Regions from separate parts of the Homo sapiens genome. Here all the other regions are reported to be linked to region 7. The links are microRNA targets in miRTarBase. Many come from high-throughput screens and were not tested one by one. Region 7 holds a microRNA gene; each other region holds the end of a gene's coding sequence.
What was found. The annotated mature microRNA hsa-miR-7847-3p reads CGUGGAGGACGAGGAGGAGGC and lies in region 7 at 1,207-1,227, opposite strand. An mRNA with a match to its seed (bases 2 to 7 or 8) in the 3' UTR can be bound and repressed. Matches are read on the target gene's strand: a 7mer-m8 pairs with bases 2 to 8, a 7mer-A1 pairs with bases 2 to 7 and ends in A, and an 8mer does both.

Region 1: miRTarBase lists HIGD2A as a target of hsa-miR-7847-3p. Seed matches in the 3' UTR shown: 7mer-m8 at 3,488-3,494.
Region 2: the mRNA of CDK19 is a reported target of hsa-miR-7847-3p. Seed matches in the 3' UTR shown: 7mer-m8 at 894-900.
Region 3: the mRNA of TAT is a reported target of hsa-miR-7847-3p. Seed matches in the 3' UTR shown: 7mer-m8 at 1,604-1,610.
Region 4: the mRNA of CHAC1 is a reported target of hsa-miR-7847-3p. Seed matches in the 3' UTR shown: 7mer-m8 at 3,188-3,194 and 7mer-m8 at 3,018-3,024.
Region 5: the mRNA of BICDL1 is a reported target of hsa-miR-7847-3p. Seed matches in the 3' UTR shown: 7mer-m8 at 1,471-1,477 and 7mer-m8 at 1,694-1,700.
Region 6: miRTarBase lists PTMS as a target of hsa-miR-7847-3p. Seed matches in the 3' UTR shown: 7mer-m8 at 3,183-3,189.

The regions. Positions count from the first base shown.
Region 1 is chr5:176,389,209-176,393,208 of GRCh38, reverse strand. HIGD2A (HIG1 hypoxia inducible domain family member 2A) reads right to left here. Exons shown (of 2, transcript NM_138820.4): 2 at 3,448-3,878. The coding sequence ends at 3,712. It overlaps CLTB (clathrin light chain B), which reads left to right. Exons shown (of 6, transcript NM_007097.5): 6 at 264-708. The coding sequence ends at 435. It also overlaps a transcript of ARL10 not described here. Among named protein-coding and RNA genes, the nearest start is that of HIGD2A, 2.5 kb to the right of the region's middle. RefSeq lists enhancers at 3,256-3,939, 3,761-3,980, 3,773-4,000.
Region 2 is chr6:110,610,823-110,614,822 of GRCh38, forward strand. CDK19 (cyclin dependent kinase 19) reads right to left here. Exons shown (of 13, transcript NM_015076.5): 13 at 1-3,844. The coding sequence ends at 3,713. Among named protein-coding and RNA genes, the nearest start is that of SLC22A16, 140 kb to the left of the region's middle.
Region 3 is chr16:71,564,862-71,568,948 of GRCh38, reverse strand. It overlaps TAT (tyrosine aminotransferase), which reads left to right. Exons shown (of 12, transcript NM_000353.3): 11 at 140-238; 12 at 665-3,289. The coding sequence ends at 805. TAT-AS1 (TAT antisense RNA 1) reads right to left here and starts at 3,933. Exons shown (of 3, transcript NR_103852.1): 1 at 3,827-3,933; 2 at 2,748-2,898. It overlaps LOC124903710 (a long non-coding RNA gene), which reads left to right and starts at 4,009. Exons shown (of 2, transcript XR_007065106.1): 1 at 4,009-4,056. RefSeq lists an enhancer at 2,982-3,513.
Region 4 is chr15:40,955,213-40,959,299 of GRCh38, reverse strand. It overlaps CHAC1 (ChaC glutathione specific gamma-glutamylcyclotransferase 1), which reads right to left. Exons shown (of 3, transcript NM_024111.6): 3 at 2,788-3,927. The coding sequence ends at 3,526. Among named protein-coding and RNA genes, the nearest start is that of CHAC1, 3.8 kb to the right of the region's middle. RefSeq lists enhancers at 1,012-1,548, 3,051-3,601.
Region 5 is chr12:120,092,499-120,096,585 of GRCh38, forward strand. BICDL1 (BICD family like cargo adaptor 1) reads left to right here. Exons shown (of 10, transcript NM_001367886.1): 10 at 502-1,996. The coding sequence ends at 663. RAB35 (RAB35, member RAS oncogene family) reads right to left here. Exons shown (of 6, transcript NM_006861.7): 6 at 2,601-4,087. Among named protein-coding and RNA genes, the nearest start is that of RAB35, 22 kb to the right of the region's middle. RefSeq lists enhancers at 299-942, 943-1,586.
Region 6 is chr12:6,769,733-6,773,802 of GRCh38, reverse strand. PTMS (parathymosin) reads right to left here. Exons shown (of 5, transcript NM_002824.6): 3 at 3,804-3,882; 4 at 3,585-3,646; 5 at 2,851-3,411. The coding sequence ends at 3,361. LAG3 (lymphocyte activating 3) reads right to left here and starts at 1,283. Exons shown (of 8, transcript NM_002286.6): 1 at 893-1,283; 2 at 464-611; 3 at 1-106. The coding sequence starts at 950. RefSeq lists a silencer at 1-23.
Region 7 is chr11:1,877,245-1,881,331 of GRCh38, reverse strand. MIR7847 (microRNA 7847) reads right to left here and starts at 1,287; the gene lies at 1,185-1,287. It overlaps LSP1 (lymphocyte specific protein 1), which reads right to left. Exons shown (of 11, transcript NM_002339.3): 2 at 1,108-1,245. RefSeq lists an enhancer at 3,992-4,087.

The DNA.
Region 1 (4,000 bases), not on the chromosome of region 7:
ACCTGAATGACAAGAAGCAGCAAGCCAGGAACAGGTCTGGGAGAAGCGTGTTCCAGGAAGAGGTGATAGCAAGTGCCAAGGTCCTGAGGCAGGACCAAGCTAGGCTTCCTCCTGCGCCAAGGCTGCCCTCCTCTGAAGTCAGGGGGGCACAAGGCTGGGGAGGACACAGTGCCCCAGAGTAGGCTGGGCAAAGCAGCCTTGCTCAAGGGCAAGGCTGGGGGAAAGCAGACTGCTATAAAAGCCCGTCCTATCTCCACCCGCAGGGCATCCGAGGAGGCTTTCGTGAAGGAATCCAAGGAGGAGACCCCAGGCACAGAGTGGGAGAAGGTGGCCCAGCTATGTGACTTCAACCCCAAGAGCAGCAAGCAGTGCAAAGATGTGTCCCGCCTGCGCTCGGTGCTCATGTCCCTGAAGCAGACGCCACTGTCCCGCTAGGTGCCTGCTAGGTGCATGGCCACAGAGCATGGGCTGGGCCTGGGCACAGGAGGAGCAGCTGCTTTGGTCGGGGTGGAGACTCGCAGCAGCTGCTACCCACAGCCTATTCCACTCCTCCCCATCTCCAGGCGCTGGGAGGGGGGCCCTCACCCCATCACGCCTCGCTCCCTCCTGGCCCTCTGGTCCAGCCCCTCACGCCTCCTCTCAGTCTACTCAATTGTGACTGTCCCTCCTGATGTATTTTTTTTCTTGGCTTAAAGGGTGTGTTGTTGACTCTTTTTACACTTATTTATTATCATTCTCACTTCTCTGGAAGCCACAACTGGTGTCAGGGCTCGGTTTGTGCTTAGAACTTTCCCAGCTTCATGACCTTGAGAGAAGGGAGAATGTTCCCCCATTTCCCAGCCAAGTGGGAGCCCCAAGCTCTCCATGTCTGTTGCCTCCACCTCCAGGAGGAAAGACAGCCTCTCGCAGAATGCTTTTGTAACCTCGATCCTTTAACAAGTCTGTGAGGTAAATTCTGTTATTCTCACCATATAACCAAGGACACCAAGGTTCCCAGAGGGGAAGTGGCTTGTAGTGGGAGGGAAAAGCGAGACCAGAGGTTCCTGGTGGTAGCTTCCTCCTAAGCCTGGGTAAGAGCCCTGAAGACCCATGAGACTCCCCTCCTTAGGGTTGGCTGGGACCTTCTGGATGTGGAGGGTCCACTGCCCTGTGTATTTCGCTTCCTCCTTCAACTGGGCTCATCTTGGATTTTGGATAAACAACCAGTGATCACACCTTCTTCCCCTTCAGCAGAGTTTGCAAACAGGACGTTCATGACCTGCATGATGTTTAAAAAGATTTGAGTAATTGCCAGTAAATATTAGCTTCCTAGGGCTTCTGTAAGAAGGTACATGAACTAGCTGGCTTAGAACAGAAATTTATTGTCTCATAGTTCTTGAGGCCAGAAATCTGAAATCAAGCTGTGGCAGAGCCATGCTCCCTCTGAAGGAGCTGGGGAAGGGTCTGTTCCACCTGCTTCTGGCTTCTGGTAGCCTCAGGCATCCCTTAGCTGGCAGACGCATCACCCCAATCCTGCCCCCATCAGGTGGCTGTTTGCACATTGCCTTCTAGGTATGTCTGTCTTTGTGGCCAAATCTTCGTTTTCTGTTTTTTTTCTCAAACAGGGTCTCGCTTTATCACTGAGGCTGGAGTGCAGTGGTGCAATCTCAGCTCACTGCAGCCTCAACTTCCTTGGGTCAGGCAATCCTTCCACCTCAGCCTCTCAGGTAGCTGGGACTACAGGCACGTGCCACCACATTTGGCTAATCTTTGTATTTTTAGTAGAGACGGGGCTTTGCCATGTCACCCAGGCTGGGCAAACTCCTGGGCTCAAGCAATTTATCCACTTTGGCCTCCCAAAGTGCTGGGATTACAGGGATGAACCATAGCACCCAGCCTAAGGTCAAATTCTAAGGCACTAGAAGGACTTCAACATTTTTGGAGGGGGACACCATGACACCAACACTTACAAACAGTGGTCATCACTCCATGTCCTTGTCTTGTATCTGGATGCCAAGGGTCACCACAGTGCACTGCTCTACATCTATCATCTCTGCCTCAAAGCTGAGAGAACATGGTGGAGGCAAGCAACTTAGCTGGCCCTAGTACAGCCCTCCACTGAGATCTAGACTGTTGGGGGGTTCAAGAAGGGGTGTGTCTTCACTCCCTTTTTCCTTCTGCCAGCTTGAAGCTGGTGTTGAAAACAGTACAATCACTCGGGAAGAGCGCAGGTCCTCAAATCCAACATTTGAGGAGCGCTGACCACAGACCAGGAATACTTGTTTGAAACTACATGAAGGAGGAACTAACAGGTCACCTCTCTTCTAGAGTGTGCTCAGGTCCTCAGCCTCCTCTTCCAGAACCCTCAAACACTATGTACACAAATCTCTGGAGAGCTTCGGGACTGTGTTCTTCCCACTGTACCAGACTGCTTCTCTGAGCCTGTTTCCTCTTCTATACTGTGTCAAGAACCAGATGGTCTAGGCTGGGCGTGGTGGCTCACGTCTGTAATCCCAGCACTTTGGGAGGCCGAGGTTGGGGGATTACCTGAGGTCAGGAGTTCAAGACCAGCCTGGCCAACATGGTGAAACCATGTTGTTTTAGTATTCTACTAAAAATACGAAATACAAAAATTAGCCGGGCGTGGTGGCACACACCTGTAATCCCAGCTACTCGGGAGGCTGAGGCAGGAAAATTGCTTGAGCCCGGGAGGCGGAGGTTGCAGTGAGCCGAGATTCTGCCACTGCACTCCAGCCTGGCTGACACAGTGAGACTCGTCTCAAAAAAAGAACTAGATGGTCTAGATCAGTGGAGCCCCATAGACTCTAGGGAGGTGGGAGCAGGGTGAGGAGGTTATGCGGAGTGGAGGGCAGAACCCTCTGCCTCTGACCCGACTATGGGAGGCCTCATCTGAAGGAAGGTTGTCCTACTGAAAGTCTGAAAAACTGCTGGCTAGACCAGTATTTTTCAAATGGCATTACTCTAGGCCCACTGAACTAGAATCTCAAGGAGTGACCTTGAGATTCTTTTTTTTTTTTTTTTTTTTTGAGATGGAGTTTTGCTCTTGTTGCCCAGGCTGAAGTGCAATGGCGCGATCTCAGCTCACCACAACCTCCGCCTCCCGGGTTCAAGTGATTCTCCTGCCTCAGCCTCGCGAGTAGCTGGGATTACAGGCACGCAACACCACGCCCAGCTAATTTTGTATTTTTAGTAGAGATGGGGTTTCTCCATGTTGGTCAGGCTGGTCTTGAACTCTTGACCTCAGGTGATCCGCTCGCTTCGGCCTCCCAGAGTGCTGGGATTACAGGTGTGAGCCACTGCGCCTGGCCAAATCTCTGCTTTCAAAGTGCCCTGGGTGGCTGTTACTAGGAAAGTTCGGGAATCACTAGACTACACGATTTCTAAGCACCACTCCAAAGTCCGTTTCCTCCAAAATCAAAGACCAAAAACCATGGGGATGATACTGAATTAAATACAAGTGGATTTTTAGAGTTTATTAAGCAGGGGAGTGGAGGGGAGATGTGGCACAAATAGAAGTATGTAACATTCAAACAACAGCATCTAGGATTTTTGAAAAAACTTTCGGTTACAGTTACACAAAGGGTCACTTCCTCCCCAGCGACACATGGGCCTCTCAAAGGAGAGGAGGGAGTAAGTCCCACGGTAGGGCCAGTGGTTGCTCCCTGGGTTTTGGAATCATTTCTGCGGAGCTTTCAAGGCCAGACCCTGGGCTTAGGGTCGAGACTTCATAGCAGTGACAGCCAGACCCAGCAAGATGGCTGCGACCGTGAAACCCTGGGCGGCGATCCGGGTGCGCATCATGAGCTGAGAGCGCTGGCTGTTGCCCCGGTGGAAGGAGTAGAGGCCGTAGGTGAGGGCGGCCGCCGTGGCCAGGCAACCTGAGGAGGGGACAAAGCAACTGGGAAACAGCAGGTCGGGCCCCGCAGGTCATTCCCCGCTTTGGGTCTCGCTTCCCCAAAGCCAAGATCTCTGGATCACAGCGGAGGGAGGGCGGCGAGGG
Region 2 (4,000 bases), not on the chromosome of region 7:
GTTGCATGTCTTATTTTCCAACTATTTTTTTCTTTTCTTTTACCTTTAGCAGAGAAAACAGCATCATTTTAGAGGCATAGAGAACAAGTAGCAGTTGCTTCACCAGGAATGAGGCAGCACACATAGGTAAATGTCATCCCTTTCCATTCTTAAGAGTCCATTATGTTCGTAAGAGCAAAAGAGTAGTGCAGAAGGCCAAAATTCTAAGTACTAAAGTTTCAAAACCACAGAGATATAAAAATATACATAATCCTTGGTCTTTGTATGTCACTGCATGATCTACTTCATCACAAGGATTGTTTCAGCCTCATAGTATCAGCCCTGCTGCCAAAGCTACCTTACCTTGAGCTCATCTGTCCTGCAACACTTGAATTCCTTTCACAAACACACACCTCCCCAGAAAGCTAACTCTGAAACTGGTTTGTAACACGAAGAGCAGAAAGCCTTCACTTGGATTCATTCCTTCCTGTCAATAACCCCTCCTAGTTTGGGTGTTCCCATAGGCTGAGGGATGCCCCTCCTGTACCCTTGGGGGACATAACAGTATCTAATAAATTTCAAAGAGAAATGCCATCATTTGGGGACCACAAAGGTAAAGTTTGCCCTCAAAAAGCTTCAAAGGTCTCCTTAGAGGTCCCACGGTTTGAGGGCCCTTACGTGTGTTAAAAAGGCTTTGTTCCCAACTGGGTGCGGTGGCTCACACCTATAATCCCAGCACTTCGGGAGGCCGAGACAGGCGGATGACCTGAGGTGAGGAATTCAAGACCAGCCTGACCAATAGGGTGAAACCCCATCTCTACTAAAAATACAAAAATTAGCCAGACGTGGTGGTGCGTGCCCGTAGTCCCAGCTACTCGGGAGGCTGAGGCAGGAGAATCACTTGAACCTGGAAGGTGGAGGTTGGAGTGAGCCAAGATCGTGCCACTGCACTCCAGCTTGGGTGACAGAGCAACACTCCGTCTCAAAAAAAAAAAAGGCTTTGTTCCCCTTTAAAGGAAAGAAAATGATCCAAAATTATTACTAAGGGTAAAGGGAATCAGTGGGTAGCACGAACCCTGAGGCAAGGAAAGAGGAGAAAAGAGCCAGTACCAGTGCAGGGATAGGAACTCAGTCATGTGTGGAATGGAGATTTCTGGCTATGTCCTGGAGGATATTGTATACTGGGAGCAACTGACGAAATCCCCTTACAGTTTATATTTCAGTTCTGCCAGCAAAAGTCATTATATACAAGGAAAACAGGGTAGTTCTGTGAATGTATAAGCGTAAGAACTATTTAACAATGCTGCTTATAAAGTATTAAGGGGCATAGTATTTTGGTTTACATATCTATCTGGGTTTGTCTTCTTTTATTAAAGGTAACCTCCTTGAGAGCAAGAACAGACCTTCTATTTTCCTTGCAATTTCCTACAACCACTTAGGAGAGTATGTTCTGCCTACAAGGACCACCCAGTTGTTGTTAAAAGGCTGCTGTGAACATTTCAAAGATACGTCAATGCCTTTTGTGATATTGAATCACTGGCTTTCTCTAAGGTAGACTGACATAGAAACCCTTCCATAATATTATTTACAGAACAGATTTGGGGATAGTAACTACCCAAGTGGGTTTAGAAGTAAACAAAAAGACCTTCATATTATAAGACAGTTTCACTTGTAAGTCAATCACATGGCACAGACATCCCAGGAGGGCTTACTGTCACAGATCACAAGCTCCTTAAGGACAAGAAGTATGCCCTGTCCTCTGTGTTCTCTACCCAGCAGGGCACCAGGCACATGGTGAGGGTGCAATAAGCATCTGATGACCAACAGCTCTGGACAGTGAGGCTTTAGGGCACAGGATAAAACTGCATATAGGCAGCTACATTATGCAGAGGGCTGCTAATTTCTTATTTTAAAAAATGGAAGGGGTAAAACAGCAGGAGACTATCAGAAACTCCTTCCAATGGAGCACGTAACCTGCTTCATCTTCAGTCTTGATGAGTGTCACTATGCAGACTTCATTATTAGTGAGCATTATTATGCTGAGATCAGTAAGGTCCTGGCTGGCTACAGTATCACATCAATAGTGCAAAATGTATACTGGCTTCTGTCTAATCTTATTTTACTTGTGTATGGACCCACAGTATCATAACCAGGTAGATAAGTTCAGAAAGAATAGTTTTTAAAAATGCATGTAATTTGCATATACAATAATCAGCTATTTCTTCTAGCTCAAGAAAACATTTAAAACAAGGCTGGTGCTGCTAGTAGCATTCAGAAGAACACAAATTTCTTGCCCCTTACATTACAATGGGAGCTCTAAGTTTTTACATTTCCTTTTGACTCTGGGGAGTGAGGGGCTCCTTAAAGCAGCTAAGAAAGAACTCAGCCACTAATTCATAGATAATGGAAATGCAAATATTCACTTTGTCTAGTATAGTCTTATACTATCCGCCCATAGTTTTTAGGCACAATTATTAAGTTTTCTCCTAGGGGCAAAAGAAATCATTCAGTGCAATGAAAAAGATTCTTGATAGAATTAAGTTTCAGTAACAACAGCAAAATTATGCATACATAATACATACTTTAAACATGAATAAAACCTAAATTTTTAACATGCTTTAAAAATAGTCACTCTATATCTAATACAAATACGAATGGAGAACACTGCTCTTTATTTTAAAAGCAGATTAATTTTCAGGCTTCTACTTGAGTAACCTTGATTATGCAAGAAAGTTACTCACGCAGACCCAGATGTGAAGAAACCAATGGTTCTTTAGAGAAGCCGACTTTATGTACAATACACACTAAAAACTTTTCCTTCAAAGGGAAGTAACACGTCTTTTGATCAAAATTACTCCTTACAGAAATCCTAGTGCAGTTGTTACTCTCTTCAGCGTTTTGGTGTGGGCCATCGAGACTGTACAAAGCTCTTGAAACCCTTTTTAAGGTAGACTTAGCTACATGAAGGTTAAAATTGTAATTCTTAATTACTGAATGCTATTCAGAATAAGATGATGCTGGGAACTCAGTTCCATATGAATGATTCTATAAAAATTACCACATACTTCAGTTCTTCGTGGCATAAAGCACATAACTGCAAAGATCTAGGCAGTTTTTGGTTGTAGGTTCCCTCTGTCCCACCGCTTGTCTTTTTATTAGACCTTCCCTGAAACTAGATAAATACGAACGTAATAGTAAAGTACTTTGGGACAGTAACAGTTTCTGTTTAAGACTTCCATGAGCAGAACAGTTATTGTCTGTGAAAACGTAGTGCTTTAAAAGGTGCATTTTTACCTGTGTTGCTAAATCAGTTCATGAAGTATAAAACTATACACCACTGGAATCCTGTTTCTAAAACATTAAAATCCTATTAAAAGAGCTTTGAAAAGATAAACCATAGTGATTGCTACAGCATGAGAAAGGTGCACCAGGAAATCCTTCAAAGAAATGCTGAAGGTTACAGAAGTGCTGGGATTAGATCAGACGCTTTATCAGAGAAGTCACAATGGAACACATGCAGGGAAGGGGTGCTGGGGAAACTTCACAAGAATCTTCTTTAAGTCAATAAAGAAGAGCTATCAGTCCTGCACAATGCTCAGTATATAAGGTTTTCCTCCCATGTGTATGAGTTTTAAATGGCATCATAGTTTGCATTTTTTTGGTTCTTTTCAATGCAGACATATTGCTGGAGCCTGTGCTCTGGGCTGGGCTGGCCTGGCCCAACGGGAGCTGGTCAGTACCGGTGGGCCTGGTGAGATGGGTGGTACTGTGAGCTCTGCTGAGACGAGGAAGAGTAGCCAAGTGTGCTCTGGGACTGAGAGGATCCCTGAACGCTGCTTTGGTAATTCAGGCGAGAACTGGAGTGCTAGGAGAAGGAAACAGGAAAAGGGAATTACTGATGGAGGAAGAGGATGACTCAAGATGCTCATCACAGTAGGATAGAGATATAAGCCGTTTTCATTAGGTTCCTGGTTCAGACACACATAGCTGACAGCTAACTTAAGTTGTTAACACATTTTGC
Region 3 (4,087 bases), not on the chromosome of region 7:
TAGCCCTCTTATTTATCAGTGATCAGTAGCACAGTTCCAAGATATCTTTTAAAGTAGCCCCTACCTTAATTTCTGGCACAGGAAATTGGCCTGTTCTCCCTCCTTCTGATAAGTTGGCCTCTCCCTCCTGTTGGTATAGGTTGGAATTGAGATGGAACATTTCCCAGAATTTGAGAACGATGTGGAGTTCACGGAGCGGTTAGTTGCTGAGCAGTCTGTCCACTGCCTCCCAGCAACGGTGGGTGCCTGTGTCCCTCAGGACATTCTCAACAGTTTCTAGAGCCCCAGAAGCAAGTTCTGAGCTGGTTTTTAGCCTGATCTTTTCTCCTCCAACAAAATGTCTTCTCATTTGATAAGATTCAAACTGATGTGTCTCATGGATCCTATTTAAAATTTGCTTCTCCCCCCCATCATAATCCCATCCATACTGGGAAGAAAAGTTGTAAACAAACGTTCTAGGTGAGAGGAAATTGATCCTGTCCCACAAGTCATTTTAAGATGAATGAACTCAGTTGCTGACTTAGCATCCCAGTCATGGGAGCTGAATGAACTGATGGCCCTGATGAAATGGTACCACTTCTTGTGGATCAGGGTCCTGACCATTTTAGGGTGGTCCAGTACCAGACTCAATTGCTCTGAAAGTAACAGACTCTTCTTTTTGCAGTGCTTTGAGTACCCGAATTTCATCCGAGTGGTCATCACAGTCCCCGAGGTGATGATGCTGGAGGCGTGCAGCCGGATCCAGGAGTTCTGTGAGCAGCACTACCATTGTGCTGAAGGCAGCCAGGAGGAGTGTGATAAATAGGCCTGCATCCATTCTCCTGAGGATGTGTCCCATCTAGGGAAGGCTGGACTAGGCCTTGCGGCTCCTCAGGGACTCAGGTGGCCCTACTGGGAGAGGGGCCTCAAATGCACCATGTCAAGGGTTCAAGATTGTTCCTGCTTTTCCCCAAGTACAACCACACCCACACTCAGATCCTCCTCATTCACATCGCAGATTCTCCCTTGCTCTGCGCTGCTAGAGTGACTCACTAATTCATTAATCTGCCTCCCTCTCGTAAGATTTCCTTCTTTTTTTCTTGAAAGTACCAGGTGAACAAAGTTTACCAGAAAGCAGTTGAGACAAGAAAATAAGAGCTCAGGATGAGGGAAAAGAAAAAGATTGAGAGAATTTGTGCCCCCAACCATTTCCTCAGACTCTAAGAAAGAACACGCTCTCTCCAGGCAGGTCTGAAGCTCAACTCTCTTATTGCCTCACTTCAGGTATACCTCACTTTACACAATAGAATTATAACTGGAAAGAAGTTGGGGACACATGTATTTGGTGATTACATTTTAAACACATTAGGAAAAGTTGCTATTTGAACTTTTTATTGATTTTTGGGGGGAGTAAAGAATTATTTTGTGATGCAAATAAATATCCTTTAATTGATCGACTTGCCAAATTTAGATTTGTGTGCATCAGGCTTTCTTTTTTTTCTTTTTTTAGAGAAGTTCAATATAAGCTTTTCTTTTCTTTGTTTCTTTCTTTCTTTATTTTGAGATGGAGTCTTGCTCTGTCGCCCATGCTGGAGTGCAGTGGCGCGATCTCGGCTCACTGCAACCTCCACCTCCTGGGTTCAAGCGATTCTCTTGCCTCAACCTCCCAAGCAGTTGGGACTACAGGCGTGAGCCACCATGCCCGGCTAATTTTTGTATTTTTAGTAGAGACAGGGTTTCACCATGTTAGCCAGGCTGGTCTCAAACTCCTGACCTCAGGCAATCTGCCCGCCTGGGTCTCCTAAAGTACTGGGATTACAGGCGTGAGCCACCTCGCCCAGCGGCATCAGGCTTTCTTAAAGTGAGAGCACGCCTGTACTAGAGCAAGCAGGAATCAGAGACCTTCCAGAAATACTACTGTGTAAGGGCCAGAAATATCTTCACTTGTCATTGTTATATAATCATTATTACTTTTGCTGTAATGTTAATATTGATTTATTAATATATATTATCTTTTCATACATTTTCTAAGAAACATTTATATTGATAAGATCTTTTATTTTGCCAAGGGCATAAATTATTGTTTTTCTTTTTTTTTTTTTAATAAATTTCACCAAGTATGGCTCTTCTGTGATGTGTTTTTTTCTCCGTTTGGGAATTTCTAATCCCAGGCACTCCTCAGTCTCATTGTTTCATTACCTATGAGGTTTCATTTACTTCTTTGTAAATGTACTGACTTTTGGAGTTACTTAAGAACCACAGTTCCTAAAACATTTTATTTGGGAGCTCAACTTCTGGCTTCCTACTTACCAAGAGGCAGTAAGTTATAACCTCTGGCCTTTGTCTTTACATTTTCAACTTTCTGGATCCCTAACCTCTGGTCCCAAGTTACTACGCTTGCCTATATCCACTAACCACTCACTAGGTCACAAAGTTGATGGCTCTGGCTTGACCCAGTGAATGAGAAGTGTCCTAGATGTTTTTTTTTTTTTTTTTTTTTCGCAAATCTTCATAGGCACAGTTGCCTGTTTAATTTTTTCTTCAGCCCTTCCCTTAGAGGAGGGAGCCTTAAGTTACCTTTCAAGGTTGGGGGTTAGGAATCTATCATAACTAGTCTAGAGATTTCTCACCAAGGGAAATTTTCCTTATCTAAAAGAGGAACTTCAGGTCTCAACCCTGCCAGTCACACCCAATTAATGTCCTTCACAAAAATAAACAGCATATGTTCCCTTTCAATTTGAGTTCAGTGAGCTCACAGCAAAATTTACCTTTTAATTTTCTTCAGCAAATCCAAGACGAATATACAAAGGATGAGATTAGATAAAGATTTCAGTTTCCCGTATGCCACCGCTGCCGCCAATTTTCCAAAAAAGCCTGGCTCCTCTTTTCCTGTTCCTCCATCCAAGCCCCCAAAGATCTCTAACCAGAAATAAACAGGAAGACTCAGTGATTTACAAAAGACATTTTAGTTTTACACGTACAGAAAATTCTACCCAGCATTACAGAATTCTTAGACTTCTTAAATTCCTGATTTTCCTTGGTATTTACATTTTGATAAGGGAGCCAATGGTTCTTCAAACATTTGAAAAGAACACATACACACTGGACAATTTCAAACGATACAAACAAACGCAACTGTCCTTCTTTCTCATTCCTGTCCTTCAGCCACCCAGTTTCTTCTCCCCTGAGGGAATCAGTTATCATTTGCTGGTCATACTTCCAGATTATACTGTGCCTATGTAAGTGTGTGTGTGTGTGTGTGTGTGTGCACTTTTCATTTTTTCAAATAAAGTATTACTCAACTTTGTAATTCTGCGCGCTCTGGAGGTCAAAGGAGGGATGGCATTGCTGGGGTGTCCCCCACATCCTGAGTGTCTCTAGATAAAAAGGAGCTACCGGGCGGCGGCTGCTTTCCACACAAGCTTAAAATTGCCAAGAGTCAACTGCCAGTTGCTTTGGGTGGTGGCGTCAGAGTGTCTTCAGATAACACGAAGAATGCGTGTAAAGATCGGAGACGGCCGGGCGCGGTGGCTCACGCCTGTAATCCCGGCACTTTGGGAGGCCGAGGCGGGCGGATCACGAGGTCAGAAGTTTGAGACCATCTTGACCAACTTGGTGAAACCTCGGCTCTACTAAAAATACAAAAATTAGCCAAGCGTGGTGACGCGCGCCTGTAATCCTAGCTACTTAGAAGGCTGAGGCAGGAGAATCGCTTGAACACCGGAGGCAGAGCTTGCAGTGAGCCGAGATGGCGCCACTGCACTCCAGCCTGGGTGACAGAGCGAGACTCCATCTCAAAAAAAAAAAAAAAAGGACCGGAAACAAGGGCTCTCAGCTGCGAATTCACCTTTTCTTTGTGTCCGAGCCCCGCCTACCGGGTAACTGGAGAGTATCAGGACTGGGTGCTACCAAGCGCCTCACAGCAGCCCCCAGCCGACACCAACATCCCAACCCTGGGCGACCCGCGGCTGCGCAGGCGCGGATGCATGTTTAGGGGGCTGCGCTAGTCAGTGCGCATGCGCCGTCGCTAGGCAACAGGACACAGCTCCGGGCGCCGGCGTAGAATCTGAGCTGCAGGTGAGGGTTAGTTCCTTTATTCGGCCTCTGC
Region 4 (4,087 bases), not on the chromosome of region 7:
ATGTTAATAACTATATCCGACATAAACAAAAGCTCTTGGGGTCCTCCACAATTTTTCATTTGTGAAGGGGTCCTGAGACCCCCGCAACTCCTGTGCCCTCAGTTATCCCTGTTTCTCTCTCTTCTTAGCAACCATGTTTCCTGAAAGCTGCTTCCCCTCCCACTGGCCCCTCAGCCCTGCCTTGTGGCTTTCCATACTGTTCCTGAAATTGCTCTCACTGAAGCCACAAGGGACCCCCCCTGGCATTTCATCCAGTGGACACTCTTCTGTCCTCGTTTCTCTTGACATCTTGGCCATCTTGGCAACATGACCATGTTGTGCACCTCCTGGAGACACCTTCCACCCTGGCTCTCCTCACCCTGCCCTCTCCTCGTTCTCCGCCTACCTCTCCAGCGCTTGTTCCCGACACCTCTTCTTGCTTTGCTCAGACCACCGCGGCTGGGGTCCTCAGGGCCTGGCCGGGCCCTGTTCTCCTCTCCTCCCCTACCAGGGCTTTAAGCCCAGTCTCCACATGTATGGTTCCCAAGTCTCTAACTCCAGCCCAGCTTTCTCTCCTGACTCCCACACCAACATATCCAGCTGCCCTGAACATCCCCGTAGAAGTCATTCCTCCCCTCACAGGCACCCCTAACTTAAACGCAAGGCTATCTACCCCCGACTCTTTCCAGATCTGCCACTGTCCCAGGAGCCCCAGCCCTACTGTCTCTACCCTCCTTTCACTCTGCTCATCAAACCAGCCACCAAATGCTGTCAACCTCACCCCTAAACAATTCTGCAATCCCTCCACTGTCCATTCCCACTGGCACACCTCAGCTTGGGCACCCTACAGCTCCCTCTGGCCTCTCTCCTCCAATCTGACTTCAGCCAGTGTTCTCTCTTAAGCACATCTCTGCCCTTCTCAGAATCCACCAGAGGCCCCCACTGACCCAGGAGGAATGCCACCCCGCAGCATGGCACAGCGCAATTCACCAGGCCGGCAGTCCTGCCACCTGTCTGGCTCGTGTCTCCTGTCCGGGCCACTCTGTTCCAGCTGGTCTGAGCTTGCCTCCCCTCAGGCACGTGTTGTTCCCTTACTCTCTGTTCCTCAGAGGCCCCTTCTCAGGTTCCCTCTCCAAGAAAGCCAAGAAGGCCTTCCCTGACTGCCCTGCTCAAGTCAGAAGCCCTTTCTGGGTGCTCAAGGCCCTCTTCTCCCATTCCACGCTGAATGGTCACCATCAGTTTCTAGACTCCAAGTTCCTTGAGGAGGAGGAGTTCTTTACCGCTGTATCCCCGTGCCTGGAATGGTGCATGGCACACAGTGGGAGCTTAAGGAAATACTTGCTGATCGAATGGCTTGATGGGTGAAAGCCCCCTACGTGCAGCTGGCAAGCAGCCCTCCCCACCATCAGCTCCCAGGATGGAGCAGGGCTGTGCTCTGGCTGTCTGGCAAGAGGCCCAGGAAACACAGGAGGCAGCTGCCCAGGGCTCCCTGCCACCTGCTGCCTCCTCCTTTTGTGTTGCCCTCACCAGGCACCCAGAAGAAGCTGGCTGGACTCCACACTCTTCCCATCAATGGCCAAGACACAAGGCCGCCAAGACATGAGCACACGGCCCAGGCATGGCACCCTCCCCAGCCACAACGGCTGCACAACCTGATCGGAGTTGACCCTGCTGGAGACACCCAGACCAATCCAGGACACCAGCCGCAAGAACAGCAGCAACACATACCACCCAGCCTGCCCCATACATCATCCCACGGCATCGTCCCCTCACAGTGAACTTGTACCCAGGGGGCTGAAGGCTTTTTCCGAGGTGACTGGGCAATGAGGAGGAGGCTGGGTTGGACTCTCAAGGCACTTTTTTTTTTTTTAATTTCCTTTGTATTTTTTATAGAGATGGGGTCTCACTGTGTTGTCCAGGCTGGTCTCGAATTCCTGGGCTCAAGTGATTCTCCCACCTTGGCCTCCCAAAGTACTGGGATTACAGGCATGAGCCACCACACCCAGCCCTTGGCCTCAAGCTCTTCTGCTGCTAGAGCCTGTCATTTTGGGTCTGCCCCATTCTGCAAGTTCAGGGATTGAGTAGCACTAAGAGGCCACTCCTGATGAGGAGCTCAGGCCCAGGCTGAGATCCTGGAGCTGTGATCTGTCCCCAAGGGCTAGACAAGAACATCTGGGGACAGGCAGGGGGTAAACTTGGGGCCCGCATTCCAGTGTGGGTAAACCAGGGCAGGTGATGGCAATGGGGAAGGCACAGGCAACACCACACTCCCGGAGGCAACAGTGAGCACTCAGACTCTGAAAGTAAAAGGGACACCAGGTCCTCCAGGCTACAGGTCCCTGCCATTAGCCTTGCCTTAGAAGTTGTCATCACCCTACCCTAACCCACGTGCTCCTTTAGCAGGACACCAGGGTTCTGGCCTAGCTGTTAGGAAGAGGCAGCCGCTGGCCCTGCAGCTGGAGGAAGAGCTGGTCTGAGCTCCAAGCCTGCCAGCCTCCTTGGGGCAGCTGGGCAGGATGAGACAGAGTCCAGGTTGGTGGCAAGGACACTGCTCACAGGGCTGCCAAGTAGAGCATGAGCTGAATTCTGCACAACTCAGGGGGTACTATTTGCATGCGTAAGGCATGAACTGTACCCATGAGAGTGATGTCACCTGCTAATTCTGCCTGCCCAGCTGCCCCTCCTGGGAAGAGAGGGAAGGAGAGGAAGAGGGAGCCCTTTCCCCTCTTAGGAGCCTTCCAGGGCATCACCACCTCACTTGCCCCAAACCCCCATCTGAGAAAGAACCACATTCCGGCACAGCACAGATAAAGAGATAGTTTTATGGGTAACAGTATGGGACAGACTGGGAAGGTTGCCAGGGCCTGTAGTGATGAGCTTCCCAGGAATAGACCAACACACAGGCAGGAGTGGCCCAGACAGACAAGTAGATAGACAGACAGACAGAGGGACAAGAAAACAACCAAGTGGGTAAGAGGCCCAGGCCAGGCTCAGCAGCTGTGTCCAGGCATCAGCTCCAGCTCTGCTCTGGGGAACTGGTGGAGGAGAAGGGCTGGCCGGGGCCTCAGTCCTTACAGGGCTCCTTCTCCTCATGCCCTACTATCCCTCATCCAGCCTGCTGGGATCCTTGGCAGGTGGAATTCCCAGGGCTATGGATGGCTGGGCTGAGTGAGCAGAGGATCGAGGCTCTTGGAGACTCCCTGGGGAGGTGGAGGCCTGGGTGGTGTGGGGTTAGCAGCAGCACTGGGGGGAATCTGGTCAAGTTCCAGGATGGGGCCACTGCTCAGCAGGGCCCCTGTGTCCAGGGCAGGCCCTCCACCTGCCCACCACACCAACATGGTGCAATAAATAAAGTTTCAAGTAGTAAGTCAGTGTCAAGCAGGAGAGCTGCAGGCTGGCAGACAGGCAGGGACTGAGAAAGAGAAGCCTCCAGCCACCCACCATATCTGCTCAGTGGGCTCAAGCGGTCGCAAGTCTGTCTTGTGCACTGGAGTGGGTGTCTGGCCCTGATGTCCACATGAGCACTCCCCGCAGGGGCTCAGCCCCTCACACCAGCGCCAGAGCCTGCTCGGTGGGGCAGAAGCAGGGCAACATGGTGCCCACAGCGTCCACGATGGCTGCCAGGTGCTCGTCCTGCGCCTGAGGCCCACAGAGCTGCATGAAGTCTGCCAGACGCAGCAAGTATTCAAGGTTGTGGCCGGAGAAGCCCCGGCAGGCCAGGATCTGCGTGGCAATGGCCTCTTCAGGCGCAGGGCCCAGGTAACCAGGGTTCTGTGGGGTGGCCACATAGGCCAATGCCTTCAGTGGTTGGTCAGGAGCATCTTGGGGATAGAAGGTGACCTCCTTGGTATCGTAGCCACCAAGCACTGCCTCTCGCACATTCAGGTACTTCAGGGCCTTGCTTACCTGCTCCCCTTGCACTTGGTATGCCACGCCCCAAGTGCAGCCCTGGGAAGAAATAGGGACACCCGGGGTCAGTCATGACAGCTCCTTGCTGCTCCCTCTCCTATCCTAACATGCCACCCCCACCCAGGACTGTGCTCTATAAGGGAGGCTGTGGTCGGCTGATGAGCCATCTGGTGGCAGTACCTCAAGCCCTTGTACTCTC
Region 5 (4,087 bases), not on the chromosome of region 7:
CAGGCTGGAATAATTGGAAAGGAAAAGGCAGGAGGAGCCCCTGAGGCCAGGCCATTGGGCTGGGGAGCTGTTAAGCTGAGGTGGCCCTAGGGCCTGCCGGGGCTGGGGGTGGCAAGCCAAACCGGAGGCACCAGCCAGGCCCACAGGACACAGGAGGCAGAGCCGTGAGGCCTGGTCAGAGCAGGTGGAGTGCTAGTGTGGAGACTGCAGGGAGAGACCACCCGAGCCATCAGCTGAGGACTGTGGCGGCCCAGCAGGAGTAACACTGTTGAGGAGAACCCAGCCCAAGCCTGAGGAGGCTGGAGGTGCCATACGGCTCCTGCGTGCGCCTGGTGTCTTGCCCACGCTCACCGCTTTCTTGGTCAGGGCAGTCCCGGCTGCAGCCTCTCACTCATCACATTCTCATCTCTCATCTGTCTGATGTTCCCACCTCCCTGTCCAGCCCCAGGGTTAGGTGAGAGCAGCTACTCAGTCCTGGCCACTGTCCCCTCCCCTCTGCAGGATGACATGCACAGGGTCATTGACCGGCAGCTGATGGACACGCACCTGAAAGAACGGAGCCAGCCGGCTGCTGCCCTCTGCAGGGGCCACAGCGCTGGGCGGGGGGATGAGCCCAGCATCGCTGAAGGCAAACGACTCTTCTCATTCTTCAGGAAAATTTAAGTTGGGAGGAGTCAGGCCACCAAAGATGGGTGGACTGGAGGCAGCTGGAAAGGCGGTGCAGGCAAGGCCTCCCCTGCAGCTTGCACCTCAGCAGCTGCCCTGCCCCTCATGCTAGGGCCCCATGGGTCCGGGAGGGCCTGCTCCCTTTCGTCGGTGGGGATGGAGACCTAGAGGTGGGGGCCTGCCTTGGCCACTGAAGGCTTCCCTTGGCCCACCGCCTGGCCAAGCCCACGCCTGGGCTTCTCCAGGACCACGTGCTTGAGCAGGGTTAGGCCACCTCCCAGAGGGGCCCCTTGGTGTTGGGCTTTGCAGCTCACACCCAACAGATCGCAGCCCACCCCCAGGCACTGCTGCCTCCTTGATTTTAGCAAATGGGGAACAGAAGGAATGGAGGCCCTTCTCTGCATGCCTCAGGAGGCCTGAGCCCCAGGGGCCTAGACCTGTGGGGGCAGCGGGCCAGGCCTGAGCCTCCATTCCTTCCCCAGCCCCTGGCCCAGGGTCAAAGGAGAGATGGCAGCCCCTCCCCCGCATGCATGCACCTCAGCTGGCAGGAGGCCAAGCCTCTGGCCGCAGGGTCTAAGAGCCGGGGCTTACCCAAGCTCAGCTGAGGCCACCCGAGCCCCAGGGAGGAAGAAGGCCCTGTCCCCCTGTCGCCACTGCTCTCCCTCCCAGCCTTCAGTCTCTGCCCCTTAGCAGGGCCTGGCCAGGCAGAGTGTTATCACCAGTCATCTGCAGGCTTTAGCCATCCAGCCCTTTCCCCTGCTCAGGGCTGGGGTTGGACGGGGTCTCCTCCTCCCACAGCTCCCTCCTCCACCCCTCACATACATACATAATTTCTTGGCCTAGCCAAACAAGTCCAGGCCACTGAATGGCACCAGAGGGGTCTGTGGTCAGCCACCCCACCTTGAGGGCAGCACAGGCACCACGGGGTGGAGGGGAGGGGGAGGCTGCCGGAAGCCTCCAGATGCTGCCTGCCTGCCTGCAGAAGCCTGCAGTGGCTGCTGCTCCTGCCTCTGCAGCCGCCCCTCCTCCTCCACCCAGGCCCCAACTCAGAGGCTCCGCGGCCCGGCCAGCCCTCAGCTGCTCACAACCGATTCAGTCTCCCTCCCTCCCTCACGTGGGGAAAGCACAGCAGGGATGCGCGGCAAGAATGTACCTGTAGATGTGTACATACCACAGTGCTGTAATTTTGTATGTAGCAATCATGTAAATACATGTATGGATTTTATAATATACATATATAAAAATCTATAAAGGCATATTTTTAGAAAAACAGCACACCACTGCTTCTTTTGAAAATAGTCTGAATAAGAATAAAATGAATTTCTACAGAGCTTCCTGCCTCAGTCTCTGGGTATTTGCGGGGGGCGGGTTTGGTCTGAATGCAGCTGACATGTCAGACTCACCACTGGCTGCTGCTGGAGAGGTAGCAATAGTGGTTCCCCTGCACCCGGGCCACCTCAGATGCTGGTACTTACTTAACCAAGGGATTTGGCCAGGAAGGGCATCCTCCCCTGCCCCTCCCGCCTGGCACTGCCCCCTGCCAGTGCTGCAGCGTGCCATCCGCAAGGCAGGCCTGCCAACGCTGCTTCCCAGGCCAGCAGGGCCCTAAAGCTTGGCAGAAACTTCAAGCCAGAAAGAAACCACGCCAGGCAAAGGCTTCCACTGCATCCTTCCAGGCATGTGGAGGATAAACACGGAGCTTCCCCTGGCATCTTACCACATGTGCTCCCAGTCCAACTAGGGGGAGACTCAACCCTGGCCCACCTGTTCATGGAGAAAATGGACCTGGCTTCTGGAAGTGTCCCAAGGGCCTCGACAGGCTCCTGTGCAAGACTTAGGCCAAGAACAGGGAAGAGCAGGACACGGTGGGTGGGAAGAAGCCACGGCCACTCAGCACATCTCTGGAGGGAGAGCAAACAGACCCTGGAAGAAAATTTGGCAGCTTGAACCTTTATTTTTAGTATTTTTTTAAAAAGCATAATTAGAAACTTTCAATACAGAAATACTCCTAGCAAACCATTGAAAAGTGGTGTTTGTTTGACAGGAATTTCACATCAGGTCCACTAGGACGTCGGTCCAGCCCTGAGTCCCCACCCCCACCCCATAACCCCCATTCATGCGTGTAACAGTGGGACAGGCACACTGTCATGACCAAAATCACCCCAATACCTGGGGCTGATGTCCAGCTGCCAGAAGCCATGGGGGCTTCTAGCCTGGGCTGGAAGCCCCCAGGAACCCCCCTCTTATTGCTTGAATTTGCAAGCACACCCTCGCTGGCCTCGCCTGATCGCTCAGAGGCCAGCATGCCCCCCGCCCACCGGCACAGGAGCCCCAGGCACCGTGCATCCTCAGGGCCCGTGGCCAACCAGGACAGTCCCAAGGACGGAGACCCCGCTTCTGCTCCTGCCGCCCCCGCCCCCGACCAGATGAGGCTGCCTGCTGGTCAGCCCTGCAGCCCCCTCCACAGCACCCTCCTTCCCAGGCCCATGGGGCTCCCCCACCCCATCCCGTGGCTCCAAAGTGAAGGCCTGTCCCAGAATCACCAGCTTTTGGCAGTTTGGGCAAGTGGAGAGTCGGTGAGAAGAAACCCCCAGTTTTTATTGATTAAAAACCCATCCACAGTGCTAACATGGAAACTGCAGTGTGATCTGTGATGTGATTGTCCAATCAGGGCTCTCCCTGGAAATCGCCTAGGAAAGGAAATCTAAGGAAACACATCCTGGTGTTAAACTCGGTTCTTCCCAGGTCACTTGATCCCTGTAGTGGGAGGGGAATGAGGTGTCCGGGCTGGGGGTCGGGGAGCAGTCATCAAGTGCAGATGACCCTGGTTGTTCTCCAGGGCACTGGGGCGTGTCAAAACTGGCCGCCCCAGCCATTCCTTCCCACCCGCCAGGAAATCCTCTTGCTACCTTTGTCCTGACAAAGGTTAGGACAGTGACCAGGGCCTGTCCATGGTCCCCACCCAGAGGCCCCAGGCATGCACTCCCCACAGTGCCCGAGGCTGCAGTGTAGACTCCTGACCTCCAGTGGGAGGCAACTCGGACAAGGGTGGGAGGCCCCTTCTCCGCTCCCACCAAGAAAGCCCAAGAGTCCAGCCCCACAATGGCAGGAAGCCATTCATTTTTTTCTAAAAACAGTGGACACAAGTGGGGTGGCCTCAACTTTTGCTGCTGTGCCAATCAAACCTCAGGGAAAGAAAATAATTGTGAGGAATTTAATTCACTTGATTTGGCTTCATTTTCTTGATCTGTTAAAATAATCCTCCCATAGCCCCCCTGCCAGCCCCATCTCTGCACGAACCTACCCCGACCTTTCTGTTGGAACTGAAACCTGTTGGTGTAAATGAGAAGCCATGGCTGCCCTGGGTTTGGAGCTCAGAGGCATCTAGAAGGCAGGACAAGAAATCTGTTGGCCAAAGGGC
Region 6 (4,070 bases), not on the chromosome of region 7:
CACGCTCAGCACCGTGTAGCGGCGGGGCCTGGGCCCCCAGGAGGAGGGCGCCGCCGGGTGAGGGCCGGGGGCCAGGGGATGGCCGGGGGCGGCAGCGGGCGGGCCACTGGGCGGGAAAGAGAATGGAGTTGAGAAGCTCCAGGGGTAGGAAGCCCGGGAGGATGCAGGCAGCCACCCGTTGAGGATGAGAAAGCCCGCCCCAAGAGTTCTCTTGACCACCAACCGTCCCCTCACGCCCGACCCCTCTGTTGGACTGGCCGCATCCACTTCTGGAGAGAAGGGATGCTGGCGTGAGGGTCGCTGATTGCAGAGCAAGGGCAGGAACGGTGCAAGCGAGGGCAGGGAGACTGGGTCACTGGCTTCAGAGGGAGTGACACCTCAGGGCAGGGGACAGAGGACCGGCACGGGTGTGGGGTTGAGTGCTGGATTCGGAGGTCCTGTTGCCCAAGTTTGGGGTGCATACCTGTCTGGCTGATGCTGCCAAGTGACCCCTGCTCTTCGCAGAAGGCTGAGATCCTGGAGGGGGATTGTGGGGCTGCAGGGGAGCTGGGCAGGAGCCCCCTCCTGGGCCCACACCACCGGGACCTCAGCCCCTGGCTGGAGAGGCTTCACTAGGTGAGCAAAAGAGAGGCCAAGGGGAGGGGGCGTGAGCCGAGAGGCAGGGGTAGAGAAGGAGCCTGGGTGTTTCCCGAGGGAGAAACAGGGTGCAGGAAGAACTTGGGTTTCTGTTTCTTCTCTGCCCAGAGAGGCTTTCGGGGTGGAAGGACTGCCCAAAAAAGGGATTAGAAGAATCCACAGAGCTAAGGACCTCAGGACCTTTGTGGCCACAGAGATCCCTGCTGGTCCCCTCCTGTGGGGCTGGAGGTCAACCCTCCCGCCATCCCCGTTTTACCTGGAGCCACCCAAAGCGGCTGCAGAAACAGCAAGCCCAGGAACTGAGCCTCCCACATCTCTCCTATGGTCTGGGCAGCGCTGAGCCCTCCAAAAGGAGGTCAGAAAAGGAAAGGGGGCAGTGGTGGGGGGTGGGGGGTAAAGGAGAAGTTCTGCAGAGAGGGAGGTGGAGGAAGGGGTTCTAGAAGAAGGGAGACCAGGAGAGGGCCTTGGAGAGAGGGTGGGGAGGGATGACCAGAGGCCGGAATCCAGAGGAAAGCTGGAAAGCTGGGCAGATCAGGCAGCCTGAGGAGGTGGGGGCGGGGGTGTCCCAGGGAACAGAGCAGGGCCGTGGCGGAGAGCAGACAGAGCAAAGTGGCCGTCGTGGCTGGGATGCCGTTCTGCTGGTCTCTGGGCCTTCACCCCTGTGCCCGGCCTTCCCTCCACCTTCCCCACTTCCCCTCCTCCCGGCCCGCCCCCCGCACCCCAGGGCTTACGGTTTCGCTTCGCAGTGGAAAGTCTGAGGGGGTTGATTCCCAGCAGCAGCACCCTCCACCTCTCCACCTCTGTGGTGGCGCTCCCCTTGTTTACTTCCTCAGTCCTGGGTCTCCCCACCTCCCCCTCCTCGCCCCTGCCCCACCCTCCAGACTGCTCCCTCTCCCAGGGACCTTCTGCCTCCACGAACCATTTCTGCCTGGAACTGCCCCCTTGCCCATCTCTAAGCTGCCTCCTCAGTCCCAATATTCACACCTCCTTCTTGGCAAGCTCTTTCCTTGTTGCTCAATCTCCTTCCTCGTTCCCTTAACCTCCCAGAACTTCGTGACCCCTTTAGACCTGCCTTTCCACCCATCAGTACAATGTCCCTGGGAACATGGTGGACAGGAAGCCTTACTGCACCCCAAAAAATGGTAGGTCTGAGGCTAGGCATGCCAGCTTTGTGGGGCATGGAGAATAACTACATTGTATTGAGGCTTCATTACGTGCTAAGCACTGTATTGGACACTTTACTTATAGTAATTCATGAAATCTAATGCTTTTCCCCATTGTACAGATGAGGAAACTGAGCTTCAAAGAAATTGTACAATTTGCCAAGGTTAGGGAGCGTGAAGATAAAAGCTGTGAGTGTACCTGTGTGCGTGACAGTGTGTAGTCCTGACCTTGGATGAGTTACGGGCGTCTCCTGGGAGAAATGATGCTGTTGATGAGTCAACACCCCTCCCCACTCCAACTCAGGTCCCCATGCCCTCAGAAGCATCCTCCAGTCCAGAGGTTCCGAACTAAGAGGAGAAGGCAAGGGCCATGCGGAGATGGAGAAATGCAGAAATCTTAGAAATCTCCTAACAGAGATCAAACTCAGGGGAAACAGAGGCAGTGGGACTAGGGAAGGCCCAAGACTGACAAGAGTCATACAACTCCCGCTCCCCAGCCCAGCCCAGGGAGAGTTGGAGGGCAGGTGACGAAACATACAGCCGACCTGGGGATGACACGAGACCCAGGATTTCCCTGCTTGACTGGAAGGAGCTCGCTTCCATGCCAGGCAGAGGGCATCTCTGATGCCAGGCAGCTCACTCCAGATCCTAGCAGGCTGAGACCCAGGACTACCAGCCCTCTCCCAGCTCAGGGGAAGGACTTCCTGTTTCTGGGCTGTTTCTCTGTGCCTGGTTCAGCACAATAGAGCTGGTAGCTTTCCACTGGGCTCAGCAGTGTCTAGGTCTTGTGTGGGTTAGCAGGGAAGTGTGTATTGCTGGGGAGGAGCATCCCTGAGAATCCAAAACAGGACATAAGTCAGCTCTCAGAAGAGCTGGGCTCCAGGCCACCCCTGGAGGGCTGATCTTGTCTTCTTGAGTCGTGGGTGGTAGGAGTGTGCTGCTGCTTTTGTATCAAAGGGAAGGGTCCTGGCAGAATGGGAGGTCAGCCACCCTCCTCCCTCTCTACCCTTTTGTCGCACTGACTGGAGCCCCCGGGAAAGCAGGAGACAGGTTAAAAACAGAAGCGCGACCATTTCTTTATTAAATTATACAAAAAGGGAGGGGAGGGGGGCAGCTGTGGGGCTCGGCCCCAACCCCGGCCCCACCCCGGCCTGGCGCTGTCTGAGAAGAGGGGATCTGAGGGAGATCCAGGGATCAGGCAGGATAGGGATGGGGCAGGACATGAGGCTGGGGGATGCAGAGGTTAGGTGGGAGAGGCTACCGGAGGAAGAATGAGGCTGGTAGGGGAGGGAGAAAGAGAGCAAAGAGAGAGAGGAGCAATTGGGGGCCAGCTGGAGAGCTCAGATGGAGCAGGTCAGGAGGTGGAACAATGGCAGAGTGAGGGTGGAGGGCGCAGTGTCTGGAGAGGCGGAAATGAGAAGGCTGGGGAGAAAGAAGAGGGTGGCAGCTCTGGTGCAGGGCCCAGAGCAGGGAGCCAGGTGAAGAGTGGCTGGACTTGGCTGCCCCCACCCCCACCTCCAGGCCCAGAGAGGCCTCCCAACCCCAGCCTGTTGGCAGGGGCTCACGCCGATGCCCCATTTTCTGTCTTCTGCCGTTTGGGATCCGCTTCATCCTGTGGAGAGGGAGAGAATGGGGGAGCTGTAAAATGGGAGGGGAGACCTCCCCCTGTCCCGGTCCTGTTCCAGCCCCCACCCCTGCCACACAGGGATCTGGGTCCAAATCCAAAGGGCGCCCAGCCCGGCTGCATCCCTGACAGCCCCTCAGGCCCAGCAACCCAGCCCAAACCTCCTCTTCGGCAGCTCTCTTCAGCGCGGGCCCTTCATCATCCTCTTCTTCTTCTTCCTCATCTGAGGAGCCAGAAATGGGTCATTGGGGAAGGGCAGGAAGCTCTGGCAGAGCCCCCGTGGTCGCCCTCAGCCCTGCTTCAGGTCTTCAAACCCACCCTGACTCTGCTCTCCTTTGAGCCCAGACTTTGCCAGCCCAGCCTCCCCTGCCCCTCCCCACCTTCTTCTTCCCCTTCATCTTCCTCCTCTCCATCCTCGGCAGTTTCTTCTTCTTCCTCCTCAGCCCCGTTCTCCTCCTCCTGTGGGGACCAGGAGAGGGAGTAGCCTCAGGCTGGCTGCATGCCTTGCCCACCATCACCACCAATGGGACTGGAGCCTGGGTGATAAAAGGGCTTGGGATGGGCCACAGGGTGGGGCAGCAAGGGTGACAGGGCTCAGGGGAACGGCAGGACCCAGCACCCTCGGAAGGAAAGCAGAGGAAGGATGA
Region 7 (4,087 bases):
GTGTGGGAGACCCTGTCTGCCACAGAGCTGGCTCTGGGCTGTGTCTCCTGTGGTCAGAATACCTGAGGGCAGGGCTATGCCTCCCCCGTCAGTTCTGGGGCAGCCTGAGAACTGTGCTTCCTCCATCAGTCCAGGACTCCTTGAGGCTCAGCAGGGCTATGCCTCCTCCATCAGCCTGGGGCTACCTGAGGGCAGGGCTATGCCTCCCTCATCAGTTTGGGGCTCCCTGAGGGTAAGGCTGTGCCTCTTCGATCAGTGTAGGGCTCCCTGAGGACAGGGCTGTGCCTCCCCTGTCAGCCTGTGGCTCCCTAAGAGCAGGGCTGTGCCTCCCCCATCACTCTGGGACTCGCTAGGGCAGGGCTGGGCCTCCCCCGTCAGCCTGTGGCTCCCTAACAGCAGGGCTGTGCTTCCCCCATCAGTCTGGGGCTCCCTAGGGCAGGGCTGTGCCTCCCCCATCATCCTGGGGCTCCCCAAGGGCTGCCCTGGTCCCCACATGAGGACCCTACATGAGGTCCTCCTAAGCCCCGACTTCTCAGGCCTCCCATGTGGCAGGGGGAGCCCCTGGATAGCTGGGGCCCTTGGTGGGGGTGGCCAAGGGCCTGACTATGGTGACCGCTGAACCCCACTCTGCCCAAGGCTGCTGACTTGGAGAAAATGGAACAAAAGAGGCCAGAAGGAAGGGAAGCATTATTGGAAAAACAGCCCAGCCCAGCCGCGGAGGCCTCCTGGGCCCAAGGAGGAAGCAAGCCAGCCTGGCCGCCAAGTTGGACGTGGCTCTGTGAGTCACTGGCGGGGGAGTCTGGTGGGGGGCTCGGCCAGGCTGCGTGGCTGGGGTCAGAGGCGGTCCGAGCAAGGGCCAGGGCACGGACACAGAGCCTGGGTCAGCGCCCAGGAGGCAGCCAGGTATTGGCAGACCCTCCTCTAGGGCTGTGGCCACCCTCGCCCCAGGAGCACTCACCCACTCCCACGCCTGCTCCTGGGGGCCCTTCCTCGCTCTCATCCTGCACTGGAACCCCCAAGCCCAGGCCCTTGACCTCCCCCTCTGCCCAGGCCCCAGGGTACACGGATAGGGGCTAGAGCCCAGGCACGCGTTATGGGGCTGCTCACAGCATCTCCTGCTTCGGCCGCTCGGGGACATGGCCGCCTCCCTCCTCGTCCTGGGCCTGAAGCTGCCTGTCTCTCTCATGCTGGCATTGCTCGTGGACGGCCTCCTCCTCGTCCTCCACGCTCCACTGAGCAGTGGGCCTAGTGGGGGACACAGAGGGACAGTCACGCCACAGCCGACACAGGTGCTGTTTTGCACCCATTCCTCCCATCTACACAGGCCTTGCTGGGGCCACACGGTGCAGGCAGCCCTGTCCACGAGGTCAGTCCCAGGCCGGCCCTCAGGCCTCACCTTGTCCATCTTTAAATAGAGGCTGCCCACGTGGTCATGAGGTGCCCTCTGGCCCAGGCGAGGGTCCTGGGGCCCTGTGAGGATCTGGGCACCCCTGTGCCCTGTGGGGATGAAGGTGGGACTCCAAGGCCCATTCAAGCCTGAAGAAACTCAAGGACAGGACAAAAGGCCCTCTGTCCCCCTCTCCCAGCCTGCCTCCCTCCCTAAGTAGAACCAGGACCTAGACCCAGGTGACCCTGGAGGGCCCAGGAAGAAGATACTGGAGTCCAGGGAGACTGGCCGCAGCCCACCGCCAGGCGGCACCTCCACCCCACCTGCGGGTGCTCCCTCCTGCACCCCAAAGGCAGGGCGTGTTGGAGAAAGGGGAGGTCGAAGGCTGAGGAAAGGAGGGCCTGAGCACGTCCAGGCAGGACACCTCCTGTCCCACCACCAGCCCCGCTCACAGAAGCTCCGCAGACTCATGGGTCCTGCCTGGGCCTAACCCCATAGCTGGGGGCACCTTACAGGGTCGGCTCACCCAACCCCACCCCATCCTTATTTCAGAGCCCTCTGCGGAGTCTCTCTGAGCTGTTTCTTTTGTTTGTTTGTTTGAGACGGAGTTTCACTCTTGTTGCCCAGGCTGGAGTGCAATGGTGTGATCTGGGCTCACCACAACCTCCGCCTCCTGGGTTCAAGCGATTCTCCTGCCTCAGCCTCCTGAGTAGCTGGGATTACAGGCATGCACCACCATACCCGGCTAATTTTGTATTTTTTAGTAGAGACAGGGTTTCTCCATGTTGGTCAGGCTGGTCCTGAACTCCCGACCTCAGGTGATCCGCCCGCCTCAGCCTCCCAAGGTGGTGGGATTACAGGGATGAGCCACCGCACCCAGCCGATTGAGCCATTTCAAAAATGGGGAAACTGAGGTAAGGGAGTGCTTCTGCCCTCAGAGCCTGAAACCATGGCTTCTTGGGGTCCCACGCGCCCCCCTCAGGGACAGAGGTAGGCACAGGCTGGCCTGGACCTGGGCATCAGAGCCCCGGCCCAGCAGCTCTCAGATGGTCCAGGTCCTGCAGACACCGCAGCCTCAGCTGTCATGGCCCTGCCTCCCATCGCCCTCCTAGAGCCTGAGAGGGGGTCCAGGGTCTCTACACTCCTACAGGGCTTATTATCCCAGACCCAGGGAGGGAGCCCAGGCCAGAACAGGGAGCAGGGCTGGGGTCTCCCCACTGGGGTCTCAGTTCTTCCCGGCCAGTGGCCGCTGCCTGACCCTGCAGCCTGATCCCCACTGGGCCCCAGTCCCCTGGCCAGACAGCCCTGCCAGCGCGTGATCTAATCTCTCCTAGGTCTCCCCTAAGCCTCTCAGACAAAAGCCAGGCCCTTCCACAGGCCCGAGTTCAAGGCCCACTCCCCCCACCGAAGCCACAGGGGACTCCAGCCACGCAAACCCAGCCGCCTGTGCACCCCGCCCCCCGCGCCCCCGAATCCGCCTGCCTGTCCTGCTCCTCAGAAGTGCCTTCAACTCCCGGCCCCCGAGGAAGCCACTTAATTCCCCACACCTGGCTCCCATCATCCGGGCAGATGAGGCCCAGCTTCCCGCTTCTGCCGGCCTCCGCATGGCTGGGGGCTGCTGGGCCTTGTTCCACCTGAGGAGGCAGAGCCTGGGGCGCAGGGGCCCTCGTGCTCACTCACGCCCCAGCCCCTCCACACAGAGGGCGGCGCAGGCTGGGGCAGAGTGTTGAGGAGGTGGAGGGGTTCCATGGAGGGGAAGCCTGGCCATATTGCTCCCCGTGTTCCCATGTCCCAGCCCCTCCATGTGAGCAAGGGCTTAGCTGGGGTGTGTGTCCCTGGGCCTGGGGCATGAGAGGGAGCCCATGCTCCTCCTTGGACCTGGGCTTCCGATGGGTCCAGGGCCCTCACTCCAGCTCCACAGACCCCCTCCACCAAGCCATAGGGGAGGCGGGGCTTGGAAGTACACATTGGCGCAGAGACCCCAGAAGCTCGTGTGCACACGTTTCCTCAGGTCCACCCCTATGGGCAAGCAGTCCGGGCCCCAACAGCCCCACAAAGGCCCTCACTCTGCTCACAGCTCATGCCCAACACATGGAGTGCGGCCGGGCGCAGGACTCCCTAGGCCTGGGGCACACGCAGGTGCACACCCAACTCACACACGTTCTCCACGAGCCCACGCTCCAGCCACACAGGCATACATGCCCGCACCCCATGCACATACAAGTATGCACGTGCTCACACACGGGAACCTTTGACATCCACGTGCGTGTGCAGACAGGCTTGGGAACAAGGGGACCACGTCCCCCTCCAGGGATCCCTTCAGGGTGCCGCAGCCTCACTTTAGTGAGGCAAACGTTGACTGTTTGCCTTGCCATTGCCCCGACAACGGCGGTGCCGGCCCTGGCACGAGGCCCAGGTGTGTACTCTGGGAACATCGTCCCTGCAGAGCTGGGCCCCTGGAGGATCACTCCGACTGAGCTCTCCCTGGCTAGGGGCCTGGGGGACAGAGTAGGGGATGCAGAGTAAGCATCTCCTGGTGTCTCCCCTAAAACCCAGTGCTGGGGAGAAGCCCGGCCAGCCCCTGGCCTCTGACCCAGCAGCCTGAGGACGTGGAGGCCTCTGGGCCCCTTCTACGTCTCCTCCCTTTCCCCTACCCCAGGATATGAGTCATGCGGGCCCCCTCCCCATGACCTCACCCCC